Regions from separate parts of the Homo sapiens genome. Here region 2 is linked to region 1. Evidence: fine-mapped expression QTL. Tissue or cell type: whole blood. Region 1 holds a variant in brackets; the other region holds the start of a gene. All regions are shown on one strand. Distances are from middle to middle.

Region 1 (8,000 bases):
TGCAGCCCGAACCTCCCAGGCTCAAACAATCATCCTGCTTCATTCAGCCTCTTGAGTTGCCAAGACTACTGGCGTGGGCCACGTGCCGGCTACTTTTTTTTTTTTTTTTTTTTTTTTTTTGTAGAGATGGGGTCTCCCTATGTCACCCAGGCAGGTCTCAAACTCCTGGGCTCAAGCAGTCCTCTCACCTTGGCCTCCTAAAGTGCTGGGATTACAGGCATGAGCCACCACACCCGGCCCCATCTAATGAATTTAACGCTTTTTATTGTAGAGATTCCCCATCTGATAAACCATTATGTCCATCTTTTCTTTTAAATCTTGAAACATAACTTAAAAATATATATAAAGATGGGGTCTTGCCATGTTGCCCAAGCTGTTCTCACACTCCTTGGGTCAAGCGATTCTCCCTCCTCGGCCTCCCGAAGTGCTGGGCTTACAGGCGGGAGCCACTGTGCCCTGCCTGTGTTGTCTTTCTTTAAGCTTAGAGTCTTGGGTTTTATTCTCGCAGGTAGGTAATGAGCTTGTGCGTCAGCTTGGTCTGTTTGAAGCTTGTTTCTAAGCTTTGTTTGGGCAGCTCTCCAGCACCTCTAGAGAAGCTCCAGGGATAGAGCAGCCCAAGGCGTGTGGCCTCTCCAGGGCTTCAGTTGGAGTTTTGTGTCTTTGTGTCTTCGGTAAGGTCTTGCCACACTGGCTTTTTGGAAGTCCAGTATCTTTTAGCATTCCTCTAGAATTTGGGTTCAGCTCATAGTTTTGTTTTTTTTTTTTTGAGGCAGAGTCTCACTTTGTCTCCCAGGCTGGAGTGCAGTGGCGCACTCTCGGCTCACTGCAGCCTCCACTTCCCATGTTCAAGCAATTCTCCTGCCTCAGCCTCCCGAGTAGCTGGGATTACAGGTGCCCGCCACCATGCCCAGCTAATTTTTGTATTTTTAGTAGAGACAGGGTTTTGCCATGTTTACCAGGCTGGTCTTGAACTCCTGACCTCAGGTTATCCACCCGCATTGGCCTCCCAAAGTGCTGGGATTACAGGTGTGAGCCACTGCTGCCGGCGTCAGGTCATAGCTTCTTAGTAGCTGTTCTCTGCCAGGCCTTGTGACATCTTGCTTTGCACATGGCAGCCTAATTTGGCCAACGACTCAAGGAGGGCTCTGTCTAGATTTCTAGAGCCCCTTTGCTGTGGTGCTCCCTCCCCTCTGTGGGCTGCCCTGCAGACCCAGCTGCACTAGCGCCCCTGGACGTCCCGTCTCTGCCTCCTCGGCTCAGCAAGCTCCCGTGTGTTGCTCTGGCCCTGCCTCCCTGCACTGTGGCTGGGCAGAAAACAGGTGACTGTGGGGCCCATCTTATGTGGTCCCATGTCTTAGGCTCCTGTCTCTCAAGCTGCACTGCTTGTCTGACATCTGGAAACAACGGCTTCCCCTTCTTGTCCAGTTTCATCATTTGCATATGGAGGGAGGGCTGTTCAGACTAATTATCTGTCATGGCTGGAAGTTGACAGTTGGCCTCGTGTTTCTCTTTTGAAGTCAGCCGTCAGTTTTATTGTTGCTCTTTCAAAGAGAGCATGTCTTTTTTTCTTCTGGCAGGTTTTGGGACTTTTCTCTTTGTTTTTCAGCAGTTTTTCTGTCCCATTTTGGGGTGTGTGTGTGTGTGTGTGTGTGTGTGTGTGTTTGTGTGTTTTGAGACAGAATCTCACTTTGCCGCCCAGGCTGGAGGGCAGTGGTGTGATCTCGGCTCACTGCAACTTCCGCCCCCTGAGTTTAAGTGATTCTCCTGCCTCAGCTTCCTGAGTAGTTGGGATTACTGGTGCCTGCCACTGCGTCCGGCTAATTTTTGTATTTTTAGTAGAGTTGGGGTTTCACCATCTTGGCCAGGCTGGTCTTGAACTCCTGACCTCGTGATCCACCCGCCTCGGCCACCCAAAGTGCTGGGATTACAGGCGTGAGCCACCGCGCCTGGCCCTAAAATCACTCTCTTGAATTTACTGTATGTTCTAACTCCTGTTTCATTTCAGGGTCTATTTTAATGTTTTTCTCCATTTTTCTGCTGTTCTTTTATTGTAAGCTGGACATTGTGGACCCTGCAGTGTTGAAGATCAGTATTGTGTGGTCTTTTTTTTTTTTGAGAAGCAGTTTTGCTCTTGTTGCCCATGCTGGTGTGCAGTGGCGCGTTCTCGGCTCACCGCAACCTCCGCCTCCCAGGTTCAAGCGATTCTCCTACAGGCGTGCGCCACCATGCTGGGCTAACTTTTTGTATTTTTAGTAGAGATGCGGTTTCTCCATGTTTGTCAGGCTGGTCTCAAACTCCTGACCTCAGGTGATCGGCCTCCCAAAGTGCTGGGATTACAGGCGTGAGCCACCACGCCTGGCCGGGGTGTGTGTTTTTAACTTACCCTGTTGGGGTCTGTAGTGCTTCTTGATTATGTTGTTTGATGCCTCTGGTTAGTTTGGGAAATTTTTCAACTGTTGTCTCCGAATATTCATTTTGCATATTCCTTCCCTCCCTCTTGCCACCTCCCCCTGTGGCCAGTCACACACGCGTTAGGCCTTTCCGTTGTGTCTCTTTCCTGTGTTTTCCTTTTGTCTTTTCGTGCTCTAGTCTGGATATTTCCTTTTGAATAAACTTGCCATTAATTCTTCCCCCAGGAGCTGCAGAGGCTGGAGACAGAGTTGGGCCAACCCGCTGAGCGCTGGAAGGACACCTGGGACCGGGTGAAGGCTGCACAGCGCCTCGAGGGCCGGCCAGACGGCCGTGTGAGTGAGGGCCAGTGTGAGCGTCCACGGTGGGCGTGTTGCTGGGAGAAAGTGGAGTCTGTCCAGCCCTGACCCAAGTCCCAACCTCCTGTTCCCAGGGCACCCCTAGCTCCCTCCTTGTGTCCACCGCACCCCACCACCGTCGCTCGCTGGGTGTGTACCTGCAGGAGGGGCCCGTGGGCTCCACCCTGAGCCTCAGCCTGGACAGCGACCAGAGTAGTGGCTCAACCACATCCGGCTCCCGTCAGGCTGCCCGCCGCAGCACCAGCACCCTGTACAGCCAGTTCCAGACAGCAGAGAGTGAGAACAGGTATGAGGGCACCTCCCACTGCCACATGGACACCTCTGAGCTGGTGTTCTGGGGTCCCAGGCAGTCCTCTGGTGGGAGATTGCGGGTGCTTTTGAGGAGCTTGCTTAAGTATACACCACCACTGGGAGGGGTTTGGGGTGTCGAACTGGTGACCACAGCTGACCACAGCCTGCAGTGGCTGAGGGAGGAGTAGAGAGAGGGCAGTGGTGGGGCCCCCGTGAGTCTGGAGTCTGGCAGGATCCATCCCAGGCAGCTGCTGCCGTGGCTGCTTCTACAGATCTACCTGCCTGGCCATCCCTCTCCTCGTAAGGGCGCCTGCCCTGTGTAGGGGGCTGCTTTCCCAAGACCCTGAGGCTCTGGTGTGGGGATGCTCCCTGGAGTCTGGAGGGTGTGAGGCGCCCTTCACTGTCTCCTTTCTGGGCGTCGTCTTCTTGGGCCTGCAGCCCCCCATCAAAGGCTTCTTTGTGGCCCCCTGGCCAGTGCTCTGGGCTTAGGTCAGTTCTGGGGACAGGGTGCCTGGTCTTACCTCCTGGGCTGGGACAGCAAGGGGGGGACGACTGCTGGGGCCTGGGCTTGGCTGGGCCATGACGGTCAGCCTGGCCCTGGTTCTGCTGGAAATGCAGGTCCTACGAGGGCACTCTGTACAAGAAGGGGGCCTTCATGAAGCCTTGGAAGGCCCGCTGGTTCGTGCTGGACAAGACCAAGCACCAGGTGAGTGATCAGGTGGTGGGGGGGACTCACGGGGGAGGGGGCTCCGCTGACTCTGTGGCCTCCTCCAGCTGCGCTACTACGACCACCGTGTGGACACAGAGTGCAAGGGTGTCATCGACTTGGCGGAGGTGGAGGCTGTGGCACCTGGCACGCCCACTATGGGTGCCCCTAAGACTGTGGACGAGAAGGCCTTCTTTGACGTGAGCCTTGGCCGGGGCTTGGGAGAGGGGAGGGGCTCTGCGGTGTGGGGGCTGCGGAGTCAGTAACCCGCCCTTCCCCAGGTGAAGACAACGCGTCGCGTTTACAACTTCTGTGCCCAGGA[C/T]GTGCCCTCGGCCCAGCAGTGGGTGGACCGGATCCAGAGCTGCCTGTCGGACGCCTGAGCCTCCCAGCCCTGCCCGGCTGCTCTGCTTCCGGTCGTTACCGACCACTAGGGGTGGGCAGGGCCGCCCCGGCCATGTTTACAGCCCCGGCCCTCGACAGTATTGAGGCCCCGAGCCCCCAGCACTTGTGTGTACAGCCCCCGTCCCCGCCCCGCCCCGCCCGGCCGGCCCTAACTTATTTTGGCGTCACAGCTGAGCACCGTGCCGGGAGGTGGCCAAGGTACAGCCCGCAATGGGCCTGTAAATAGTCCGGCCCCGTCAGCGTGTGCTGGTCCAGCCAGCGGCTGCAGGCGAGTTTCTAGAACCAGAGTCTATATAAAGAGAGAACTAACGCCACGCTCCTGTGCCTGCCTTCCCCACTCCCCGGCTGCCTGCTCTCGGCCTACCCAGAGGGTCCCATCTGCCCCTATCCAGGCCCACCTGGCGGGAGGTTGGCATCTTTCTCGTGAGCCTCTCCTGGTGCCTGGGTCCACCCAGCTCGGCCTGCATGTCCCTGGGAGTGACTTTGCTCTGGGGGCGGATCGAGCAGGAGGCTTCACTGGGGACTTGCTTGATTCCCTCCACGCCTCAGGGCTGGTCTAGGGGCCGGCACGGCTGGAGAGGAAGCCCCCATCCCTACCCAGGGGATGCAGAAGCTGACCTCACAGAGGCTTGGGGGTGAAAGGGTGGGTGGTCATTTGACCCCAGAAGGCTGTTGCAGGTCCAGAGGACACTTGAGGTGGACGTCAGTTTCTGGCTAGACCCGAGCTGAAGGGATGGAGGCCGGAGGCGGGGGGGGGGGGGGGACAGTGGGCTCCCAGGGGAATGCAGGTTGACCACATCTGGCTCCTGCCAGGCAACGAGCAGCATCTGGCAGAGTAAGGGGCCAACGCCCATGGGGGATGGACCCTCTCAGTTCTTGGGAATTCTGCCCCAAAAGTCCTTTCCCTGGGGTCTCAGAGGGCCCCCGTCCTTCCCTTCTTGGTGTCACTGTGGCCCCTCACTGCTCTTTTCCTATTCAAACCTGAGTCCCACCAGGCCCAGGGCTTCACCTGCTGAGCTGTTGTGTCCTTGCCTGTGACGAGGCCTGGCCAGGGGTGCAGGAGCAGAAGGTGGGGAGGGTTATAGACGCTGCAAAGGCCAAGAGAACATCTGAGAGTGGCAGCTGGTGACCTGGCCAGAGGGGCTGGTGAGGGGCAGAGAACCTGGCTAGAGGCTGGGTCCCTCAGGTGGTCCTCTCAGGTGGGAGGCGAGCAGCAGGTGTGGGTGAGGGGAAGGTTCTGATGACAGCTGCAGAGGCAGGGCCCAGTGCTGGCAGGTGGGGGGCCAAGACCCTCCCCTGGTGGGACGTTGAAGCCAAGGATGGCCTTGGACCCTGTCAGGCCCAGCATGGTCCCGCCACCTCCCCCACCCCACAGGTGGTGTTGGGACACCTGGGCGAGATGTGAGGGTGGGCTCACTTGAGCCACTGAAACCAGCCAGGTCTTCCCTCAGGCCGGACAGATGGCGCCTGACCGAAGTTCCTGGCACCTGGAAAACCCACAGGTCAGAGTAAGGGGAGAAAGGACCCTGCCCTCCCTGTTCCACGTCTGTGGGGGGAGAGGACAAATGCCAGGCACAGGGTAGGCGGCGAGAACAAGGCACTCAATGTGTAGCTGGGGCAGAGACTCGGCCTCTGGGGAGCTGAGCGGGTTCCCTCCACCCCCAACCGTGGTGGAAAGACAAGCTCGCTGGGGCGGGGTGGGGGTCTGGTCTCCACCTGCCCCTCCCACTCAGCCACTGAGGACAAGGTGGGGCCCAGGCTTCTGGGAGGGGGAGCTGGCACAAAAGGAAGTCCTGGGGTTGATGTGTTTGAGCGTTAGGCGAAGTGGTTCCCCCCATCCCCCAAACGGAAAAATGTCAGTATTTGCTAAGCTGTAGAGACCTGATGCCGTGATGTGGCCTGTTCCGCCTCCACCCATTACACGGGGATAACGCTGGGGGGTGGCGGGCCCACAAAAGAGGTGCTGGAGGAGACTCTCCCACCCCTGGCCGGGCCGGGGCTTTGGGGCCGGAAGGTTCACAGTACGCGGTTTGTCCGAACGTCACGGCTTTTATTGGGAGTTGGGGGTTTGGGGTGCCCTGTCAGGTGATCAGAACATTAAAAATGGACTCAACGTAAAATAATCTTCTGGACCCTTCTAGGACGACATGGCCGTGACCGGTAGTGCTAGAAACCAGTCTTCGAGCCCCTAGTGCCACACCATGTCCCCCCACCTGCATACCTGTGGTCTCCCCCTGCCAGGCACCCTGTGCTGGGCACAGGGACATCCCTGCCAGGCCTAGAGGGCCTTGTGTTTTTAAGGCAGTCAAATCTTGCAGCCTGGTTCAGTGCCAGCTCCAAGGGCTATTGGGTAGCTGCAAGGGTCAATTATGCATTCCTGTGAGTCAGGTTTTTCCAACCCAGGCCCTTGACTCTGCCCTGAGCTTGCAGCTGGATACAAAGTGCAAAAAAGCTTGGCTCCTTCTGTATTCTTTAAAAACAAAACAACAACAAAAAAAAAACTGTAAAAACAGCCTCCATGTCCACGCCCTTCCTGGCCCATCAGGTCCTGGTGGCATCTCAGGGTCCTGCCCCCCCCACCCCCACCCCCACCCCGGCTCCTGCAGGCCGACCTTATTGCTGTGCTCTGGGCTTGGGGGCGGCTGAGGTGCCCCTCTGTCCTCCAGCAGGGCACGAGTGACCTGAGAGGCCCACTCAGGCAGAAGAGACGCAAGCTGGGCCGTCCAACTGGTTTCAACTGCCAGCTTTACCAATGCAGCATTTATTTTAAAATTAAATTAAATTAAAAAAAAAAAAGATTGCATCACCAGGTAGTTTTCTCGATTAAGGAGGCAGCCTGACCAGGGTGGGCCGTGGCCGGGCGGCAGCAGCATCACACTGGGCCATTTAAGGCAGCTCCTTCTGGCGGGGCATCTGTCTTCCTGCAGGAATGGGGTGGGGTTGGAACCGTGCGGGCTGCGGGCCCTGTCCACACCCCCTACCCCCACACTCAACCTGCTCACCCGTCCTTTGTCACTGTCCCCAGGGTGGCCACCATGGCTGGGGCTGCTGTGACTGCCATGATGGGCCCTAGGGGGACCGCCACGGCCAGTGCAGAAGAGACTGCTGGGGTGGGTATGGCGGGGCCAGCCTTGCTCAGTGCTGTGGTGATGGCCACAGTAGCCTCGGGGGGCACAGCCACGGCTGGGGCAGCAGTCACTTCCTTTGGCGCGGGGCAGGCAGGGCTTAACAGCCGGCTGTCAGCACACCCGACCCTGTGTGGCAAACATGGACTCCGGTTACGGGCACCCCCACCCTCAGTGCCACCCCGCCTCATGCCCAAGGACCAGCTGGACAAAAAGGTCCAGGCGGCCTGGGAGCACCATCTTTGGCCCCTCTCACTCCTGCCCTTTGTGGGGTGGCCCAGGTTGTGCCCAGCTAGGCAGCTCTGCTGCCCCAAGTTCCAAGTACTGGGACAAGCTGCCTGTCCATTGATGACCTCAAACCTCCTCCAGGCAGCACTCAGATCCTGCTCATCATCAAGCGCCTCATTCTTCAAGGACCCCAGAGCCTCCTGTGCTATGATCTCAACTTCAGCCTCACACTGGACACAGTCTGGGGAAACCTCCCAGGGGATGGGAGGGTAGAGAGGACCCTGCCGGGCATCTAAGGGGCTTGCTCTGGAGGGGGTCGGGCACCCCAAGGCCCAGCCTGGCCACGAGCAGCAGACGGGCCCCCTGGCTTCCTGCAGGGCGACGACACTGTGTCTGACTGAGGGAGGGGCACTCAGGTCAGGCGGGGGCGCGAGGAAGCTCACCTGCAGGCTGGGCCGTGACGACGGTGCAGGCAGGGCT
Region 2 (8,000 bases), 200 kb after region 1:
TTGGGGGCTCCGGGTAGGGCCTGTGTGGACCCGTGAGTTGGGGGCTCCGGGTAGGGCCTGTGTGGACCCTGTGGGCCCTGTGCAGGTGGCCAGGCTCAGAGTCCTAGATCCCCATCCCTGGGATGCAGGTCAGGTGAGGAGGATGGGAGGTCAGGGCAGCATGGGGCCGTGTGGCCTGGTGGAGATGACCTCTGGCTGGAGCTGGAAGTTGAAGGGAAGGGTGTTCCTGGCAGGCTCAGCACAGAGGCTGGCACAGAAGGAGCCGGGAGTGGTGAAAGGCAGCTGTGAGTCAGGGAACCAGGGCCCACTTAGCCCCTCCTGGCCCCCAGACCTGCTGCCCTTCCGCCATGTCCAGGCCAGAGACCTGGGCCACCCTGACACCCTCACCACGTCCGCTTGTCCCTAAGGCCTCTCTGCTCACACCTCCTGAATCTGTCCTTGCCTCTCCTTGCCCCATTTTTGTTTTTTGAGACGGAGTCTCACTCTGATGCCCAGGCTGGAGGGCAGTGGCACGATCTTGACTCACTGCAAGCTCCGTCTCCCGGGTACACACCGTTCTCCTGCCTCAGCCTCCCGAGTAGCCGGGACTACAGGCGCCCGCCACCAGGCCTGGCTAATTTTTTGTATTTTTAGTAGAGACGGGGTTTCACCGTGTTAGCCAGGATGGTCTCGATCTCCTGACCTCGTGATCCGCCCGCCTCGGCCTCCCAAAGTGCTGGGATTACAGGCGTGAGCCACCGCGCCCAGCCCTCTCCTTGCCCCACTTTAGGATCCCTCCCCCCTGGACAACTGTATACCCAAGACAGTCCCCAGGGCCTCGCCTGTCTCCCCCAGCCCCCGCTAAGCAGTCCAGACTCCAACCCCAACTGCTGGGGTCCATCATCCCCTATACCAGGGGCTATCCCCTCAACTTGGAGGGCTGGCCAAAGCCTGTGCAGCCTCAGGCTGGACTCAGAGAAGCCTCCCCAGCTCCCGCAGCTATGCTGCGGCCTGAGGCTGTGCTGGACCTGGCTTCATTTCTGCTCCAGGATGGCAGGCTGTGTCTTCTTCATGGCTGCATGACCAGCCTGGGGTGGGTGTGCCCGGGGAAAGTAGGTGTACACTGGGAGCCGTGCCATGTTTCAGGCCCTGTCCTGGCTCTGCCTCGGGTGCGGGACCTTGGTCCTCCACACTGGCTGGGTGGGGCTGGATGGGTTGAGATTCACATGTGCTCCTTACGACCACGGGTCCCTGGGTGCCCGCAGCAGGGCCTCCACCCTTCGCTGTGTGCATATTCGTGTGCTTATGAGTTTGGCTTTGTTTGATTAAAGGTTTCTGCTGCTAGAAAGATAACTTGAAAGCCATGGGCCATAGGATCCTCTCTGTAGTCCCCACCCACACAACTGTGGCTGAGGCCTCAGCTCTTAGGACAGACCGTGGTGGACATGTGGCCAAGCCCTGGCCACCTCCCCTTTCCCTGGAAAATCCAGATCTAGAGCAATGGCCTCTTCACACAAACCTTCTCTCAGTGGTTCAGACCACATTAGGATTAGAGAAGGGCCCCACGAGGCACCGCCAGGCGTGTCTGTGAGCGACTCCCAGGATGGAAGGCAAAGGCTGACCCCCCTCTCTGTTGTGCCCGCCCCCCCACCCCCGCCAGGTGTTACTTACAAAGAGGTGCTCAGCTTCAAGCCTCCCCGGCAGCTGGGGGCCAGGGTCTCCAAGGAGACGCCTCTGTGAAGATCTCTGGGCTCCGGGGTGGCAGTGAGGACCACCTTCACCTTCCACCTGAGAGGGGACTCTCGTTGCCACCTTGACCTTGGCTGGGGCTTGCATCCCAAGGCATCCATCAGAGCAGACGCCCGGGTTCCATGGACCCTCCTCCCCACGGCCATGCCTCTGCTCTTGGGCGCCCATCATGGAGGAGCACCTGAACTTTCTGGACAAGACCTCTGGCCGACCTGGGGATGGCCTCTGATCCCTGGAGCAGTGGCCCACTTGCCCGGTGCTCTCAGAAACCTCAGAGCTGGTGGGGCTCCAGATCAGGCCTTGGCCTCTGAGCCCTGCCTGCTCTGGGCCATGCAGAGGAAGGACAGAGGGTGGGCGCAGGGCACCAACTCAGGGACATCCCCTCTCCTGGGCGACGTCAGTGGACCTTCCTGCACCCCCAGCCTGGAATGTAAATCAGCTGTGTGGTGCCCGCGTGGCTGGAAGGAAATAGACCCTTTTGTAGCTCCCTGTTCTGGCTGTGCGTCCTCATGCCGGGTCCCACCTTAAGACCTCCGGGCCCTTGGCCTGCATGTAGAGGAGGCTGGCCTGATAGCTCAGACCCTTAGAGCCAGGAGGGGGGCCTGAGCATCCCATCTCTCCCAGGCCACAAAGCTGGTGCCCACTTCCCCCAGGCCTGTGCCAGTGATCTTCGAACCCCCACGTTAGGGCTTGGCCCCTCCCCTTTTACGGGGTGACCTGCTAATGGCTTAGACTCTAAGCCACTGTGTGTGGATCCTGAAGCCAGACCCAGGGGCAGGGCCTGATGGGGAGGAGTGTTAGGATCTACCCTAGCTCTCTGCATCCTCCAATGCCAGCAGGTCCCTGGGGGGAGGGGGCACGCTGGGCACGTTGAGACCCCTGTGGTGAAGTGGTGAGCGCCAGCCAGTCCCTGGGGGGACGGGGCACATTGGACATGTTGAGACCCCTCTGGCCCCTGTGGTGGATTGGTGAGCGCAGAGGGCTGGGTTTTATTCTTGATCAAACCTCTAGCCCCTACTACCCTGCTCCAGTGGTATCTTCGTGCCCAGGCCGCCCTCTGCAGGCCACTCGGTGTTTCCAAGGGTGGCGGCTGGAACACAGGCCATGGGCACCTCCAAACCTGTCCCAGGGCAGGGGTTACAGCAGAGAGACCAGTGAGGGGCAGGGCAGGGCAGGCCAGGTGTCCTCGGTGGACATGCCCACAGCTGGCCCAGCCAAAGTGGACCTGATGAGCTGCCACGACAGATGGGCCTTCTCTGCCCAGCGACCCTCATGCCTCTCCAGGGCATCCGGGCCTGGGGGACGTGATCGCCATCAGTTCCGGAGCCACGCTGACTTGTGGCATGGCTGCTGTCCACACTGGGCCCAAAGTGTGGGCCCATAGGTGGCCTGAGGACTGGGGGCCCCAAAATTCTGTGACCCAGCTGGATGTGAACTCCCGCGGGGGCAGGGTGTCCCCTGGGCTCCAGGGGGCCTCAGGTTTCCTCTCGGGCATCTTCCTCCGTGGCTGTGCCCGTGCCTCCTATCTTCCTCAGTCCCCCACCATGCTACCGCAACCCCGGTCCAGTGTCCCCACCTCCACCGACCTTGACTCTGCTCTTGGGCCAGGGGTCTTCTTGGAGCTAGAACCGGACTCACTCCCTCCTTAAACCTCGGGGGCGGTGCTGCGCCTCCATGCAGCCACGACCACCGCCCTGAGCCGGCCGCAGCGCCACCTGCCTCCCCGCGGGCTCCTCCCGCCTCGTGGCCTTTGCCCTGCAGACCCCTCGCCCCCCTCGCCTTTCACCCCAGGTCTTCCTGCGCCCGGGCCGGGTGGGCCTTGGGGCTGCGCTGGACCCTGACCCAGCTGGTGCAGAACGGGGCTCTCATGGGCAGGCTCGGCCACGGGCGTTCGGGTGGGGCTGCGGCGACCACTCGCCTAAGGCCGGGGGACCCCGCCCCTCTTGGAGGGGATCGGGGCGGGGCCAATGGGGAGGCGGAGCCGCAGCGCAGCTCCGAGGGCTGGCGGCTCGGGGCGCCGAGGCTTCCGCGCCCGCTGGTTCCTCGCTCCGGGGCGGAGCTCGCGATAGCGACCGGGAGCAGGGCGCGGGGCGGGACCCAGGTCCGAGGCGAGGAAGCCGGAAGCCAGGCGCGGGGAGCCTCCCCCTTCGACTGCAGCCTCGCTCCGTGCCTTCTGCGCGCCTGGGATCCCGGAGCCTGCCTAGGTTCTGTGCGCTCCCGCCCAGGCCGGTGCCCGCCGCCCGCCTGCGCCCCAGGCAGGTCCCAGGCCTCCGGCTGCTCCCGGCCGAAGGTGGGGACAGGCAGTGGCAGGCACCACTAGCGAGGGCGTTTGGGAACCCAGGGTGACCACGGCGCAGCCATGGGGACCGCGCTTGTGTACCATGAGGACATGACGGCCACCCGGCTGCTCTGGGACGAGTAAGTGGGACCTGGCCGAGGTGGGGTGCGGGGAGGGACCTCTGAACTGAGCTCCTCATCTGCCCCAGCCCCGAGTGCGAGATCGAGCGTCCTGAGCGCCTGACCGCAGCCCTGGATCGCCTGCGGCAGCGCGGCCTGGAACAGAGGTGTCTGCGGTTGTCAGCCCGCGAGGCCTCGGAAGAGGAGCTGGGCCTGGTGCACAGGTCAGGACGGGGGCAGGCCCCACGATGGGGGGCGGGGCGGGCAGCCCAGCTAGAAACCTAAGAACCTGGGCCTACCCCGAGCCTGCCAGCCTCGAATACAGAGCCTCTCCCTATGCACCTCGGGTGGGCTCACAGGCTTGAGGAAGTGACAGGGTGGCCACTCCCACCATGAATCCCAGGTCCCCGCCTCCCGCCCCCCTGCTCCTGCTGGTGACCCTGCCTCTCCTGCCTGCCCATCTGCATGCAGCCCAGAGTATGTATCCCTGGTCAGGGAGACCCAGGTCCTAGGCAAGGAGGAGCTGCAGGCGCTGTCCGGACAGTTCGACGCCATCTACTTCCACCCGGTGCGTGTCCCCGGACACACTCACCTGTGCAGACACACATGCACGTGCCTTTGAGCGTTCACAGCCACGGCCGCCAACCCCAGCCAGTGTCCCCTGGTCCATACACATGACATTGCCCTGCACACCTGCCTGCTGGCACTGCCAGAGCCTGGGGCTGGCCTGTTCTGCTCAGCAGCTGGTGTCTTGCAGCCTGGCACAAGTGTGGGTATGGCCTGCAAAGGGCAGCAGGGAAGGCAGGGGGCTCATCTGCGCCCCTGCGCCCACAGAGTACCTTTCACTGCGCGCGGCTGGCCGCAGGGGCTGGACTGCAGCTGGTGGACGCTGTGCTCACTGGAGCTGTGCAAAATGGGCTTGCCCTGGTGAGGTGAGAGCTGCCCCTTCCCCTGGCTGCTCCTCCGTGGGTGGCCCTGTGAGGGGCCAGGGCGACCCTGACGTGACCCAAATCCTACTCTCACGCCGTAGGCCTCCCGGGCACCATGGCCAGAGGGCGGCTGCCAACGGGTTCTGTGTGTTCAACAACGTGGCCATAGCAGCTGCACATGCCAAGCAGAAACACGGGCTACACAGGTGTGTGCCAGGCTGGCTGCAGGGGGGTGGGCCCAGGCCACACAGCAAGGGGCAGCGCAGGAGGCGAGAGAACCCAGCCAGCACCTTCCCATCCCTGGCCGGGCTCCTGGAGGTGGGAGGCCCTGCCCCTTTGCCACCAGCGCTGTCTGTACCCAGGATCCTCGTCGTGGACTGGGATGTGCACCATGGCCAGGGGATCCAGTATCTCTTTGAGGATGACCCCAGGTGAGCAGGGGTGCGGAAACCACCCTTCCCTGCAGCCCCAGTTTTTGGGTGCACAGCCTGGCCTGGGAAAATCCAGGGGTGAGATACAGACATGTGCTCAGGGGTCAGCGTTCTACAGGGAGCTGTAGAGCTGTTGAGGGTCCTGACCTTTGACCTCTGGCCCTGGCTGGCTGTTGGCAGCGTCCTTTACTTCTCCTGGCACCGCTATGAGCATGGGCGCTTCTGGCCTTTCCTGCGAGAGTCAGATGCAGACGCAGTGGGGCGGGGACAGGGCCTCGGCTTCACTGTCAACCTGCCCTGGAACCAGGTGCCCACCCTCAAGCCCCAGGTCCCCACCCAGCCCCCTCCCCCTGGGCCCCTCCCCTCCCCCACAGTTCACCCTCAAGCCCCAGGTCCCCACCCACCCCCTCCCCCGGGCCCCTCCCCTGCCCCACAGTTCAGGATGTAGCCTGGGATGTCCTGCCAGGTTGGGATGGGAAACGCTGACTACGTGGCTGCCTTCCTGCACCTGCTGCTCCCACTGGCCTTTGAGGTGACTGCACGGAGGGCTCCCCCAGGGCAGCCGGGTGGGAGGGGGACCTTGTGCCTGGAGTGCGCCAGTGAAGGCAGGAGGAGGGTTATGAGCTGTCCCACTCCTGTGTGGCTGGGGAAGGTGCTCAGGAGGGGATGGGATGGGCCTGGCTCGCCCTCACCTGGGCTCCAGCCCCTCTCTGTCGACCCTCCCCACTCCGGCCTGGCCTGTAGTTTGACCCTGAGCTGGTGCTGGTCTCGGCAGGATTTGACTCAGCCATCGGGGACCCTGAGGTGAGGGCCTTGCCTTGCCAGGGAGGGCTTCTGGGGTCCTGGGGCCCAGGTCCCCCATCACACATGGCTCTGGTTCCAGGGGCAAATGCAGGCCACGCCAGAGTGCTTCGCCCACCTCACACAGCTGCTGCAGGTGCTGGCCGGCGGCCGGGTCTGTGCCGTGCTGGAGGTGACTGGGGAGGGCACACAGGGAGGGTCTCTGGGCCAGAGGCCTGGGGGTCAGGAGCATGGGAGCCAGGTGCCCACGGGGTATTTGGGAGGGGCGTCCTGCCCGGGATAGAGCCAGGCAGGGGCTCTCCCGGTGACATCCCATCCCAGTGATATCTCTGCCCCAATCATGTCTCCACCCTCCTCCCAGGGCGGCTACCACCTGGAGTCACTGGCGGAGTCAGTGTGCATGACAGTACAGACGCTGCTGGGTGACCCGGCCCCACCCCTGTCAGGGCCAATGGCGCCATGTCAGAGGTGCGAGGGGAGGTAGGGCGGGCAGGGCCGGGGTGTGAGACCAGGTGTCACGACTGTTGTGTCTCCCTCACAGTGCCCTAGAGTCCATCCAGAGTGCCCGTGCTGCCCAGGCCCCGCACTGGAAGAGCCTCCAGCAGCAAGGTCAGTGTGGCCGGGTGCTAGGCTGCAGGATCCCACCTCGGGCTCCTGTGCAGTGGCTATGACTCCGAACTGTCCCTAGATGTGACCGCTGTGCCGATGAGCCCCAGCAGCCACTCCCCAGAGGGGAGGCCTCCACCTCTGCTGCCTGGGGGTCCAGTGTGTAAGGCAGCTGCATCTGCACCGAGCTCCCTCCTGGACCAGCCGTGCCTCTGCCCCGCACCCTCTGTCCGCACCGCTGTTGCCCTGACAACGCCGGATATCACATTGGTTCTGCCCCCTGACGTCATCCAACAGGAAGCGTCAGCCCTGAGGGAGGAGACAGAAGCCTGGGCCAGGTGGGCAGGGCTGGCCTGGGGAGAAGGATGGGGCCGCATCTACACCTGTGCCTGTGTGTGCCTGACCTGCGGTCACTCCGTGTCTGTGTGTCCCTCTGGTCTGTCCACCACAGGCCACACGAGTCCCTGGCCCGGGAGGAGGCCCTCACTGCACTTGGGAAGCTCCTGTACCTCTTAGATGGGATGCTGGATGGGCAGGTGGGAGCACCTGGGAGGGGTTGGGGATGCTGTGGACCTAGGGGCAGGGACCAGGACCTGCCAACGAGATGTGGCCTGTCCAGAGGAGGGCTGGGTGGTGCAGAACCACATGGATGTGAACATTGCCTTGTGCCAGGAACTGTTCCCAGAACAGCCCCAGGGGTGGGGATCACTAGTGTGTCTGACCTCTGACCTCAGCTTCTTCAGTTAAATGCTCTTTGGCAGAGAGGTGAAGGGGGTGATTTAAAGTATACATTTAGGCAGGGTGCAGTGGCTCATGCCTGTAATAACGGCAGTTTGGGGGGCCAAGGTGGGAGAAACGCTTGAGCCCAGGAGTTCAAGACCAGCCTAGAGAACATATGGAGACCCTGTCTTCACAAAAAATAAAAAAGTCAGCCAAGCGTGGTGGTGTGTGCCTGTAGTTACTTAGGAGGCTGAGGCAGGACGATCGCTTAAGCCCAGGAGTTTGAGGCTGTGGTGAGCTACAATTGCGCCACTGCACGCCAGCCTGGCTACAGAACGAGACCCTGCCTCTCTAAAAAAAAAAAAAAAAATTATAGACGTAAGCATCT

Evidence for each region. PIP is the estimated chance that this variant, and not a neighbour inherited with it, causes the effect.
Region 2: it holds the start of HDAC10, and the variant in region 1 is fine-mapped to the expression of HDAC10 in whole blood (INTERVAL, PIP 0.96).

Annotation. Positions count from the first base shown.
Region 1 is chr22:50,443,287-50,451,286 of GRCh38, reverse strand. PPP6R2 (protein phosphatase 6 regulatory subunit 2) reads right to left here. Exons shown (of 24, transcript NM_001242898.2): 23 at 7,170-7,421; 24 at 6,197-7,088. The coding sequence ends at 7,040. It overlaps SBF1 (SET binding factor 1), which reads left to right. Exons shown (of 41, transcript NM_002972.4): 37 at 2,637-2,744; 38 at 2,843-3,054; 39 at 3,678-3,765; 40 at 3,834-3,965; 41 at 4,047-6,287. The coding sequence ends at 4,145. Among named protein-coding and RNA genes, the nearest start is that of SBF1, 28 kb to the left of the region's middle. RefSeq lists enhancers at 5,840-6,686, 7,065-7,234. The variant C/T (reference allele first, on the strand shown) is at 4,088.
Region 2 is chr22:50,247,120-50,255,119 of GRCh38, reverse strand. HDAC10 (histone deacetylase 10) reads left to right here and starts at 3,855. Exons shown (of 20, transcript NM_032019.6): 1 at 3,855-4,146; 2 at 4,215-4,349; 3 at 4,597-4,693; 4 at 4,960-5,057; 5 at 5,156-5,260; 6 at 5,417-5,485; 7 at 5,666-5,792; 8 at 5,952-6,017; 9 at 6,230-6,289; 10 at 6,369-6,458; 11 at 6,648-6,754; 12 at 6,828-6,895; 13 at 6,975-7,230; 14 at 7,344-7,428. The coding sequence starts at 4,088. MAPK12 (mitogen-activated protein kinase 12) reads left to right here. Exons shown (of 12, transcript NM_002969.6): 12 at 1,640-2,219. The coding sequence ends at 1,719. RefSeq lists enhancers at 2,840-3,009, 4,664-5,510, 6,856-7,295, 6,668-7,590 and a silencer at 3,500-4,159.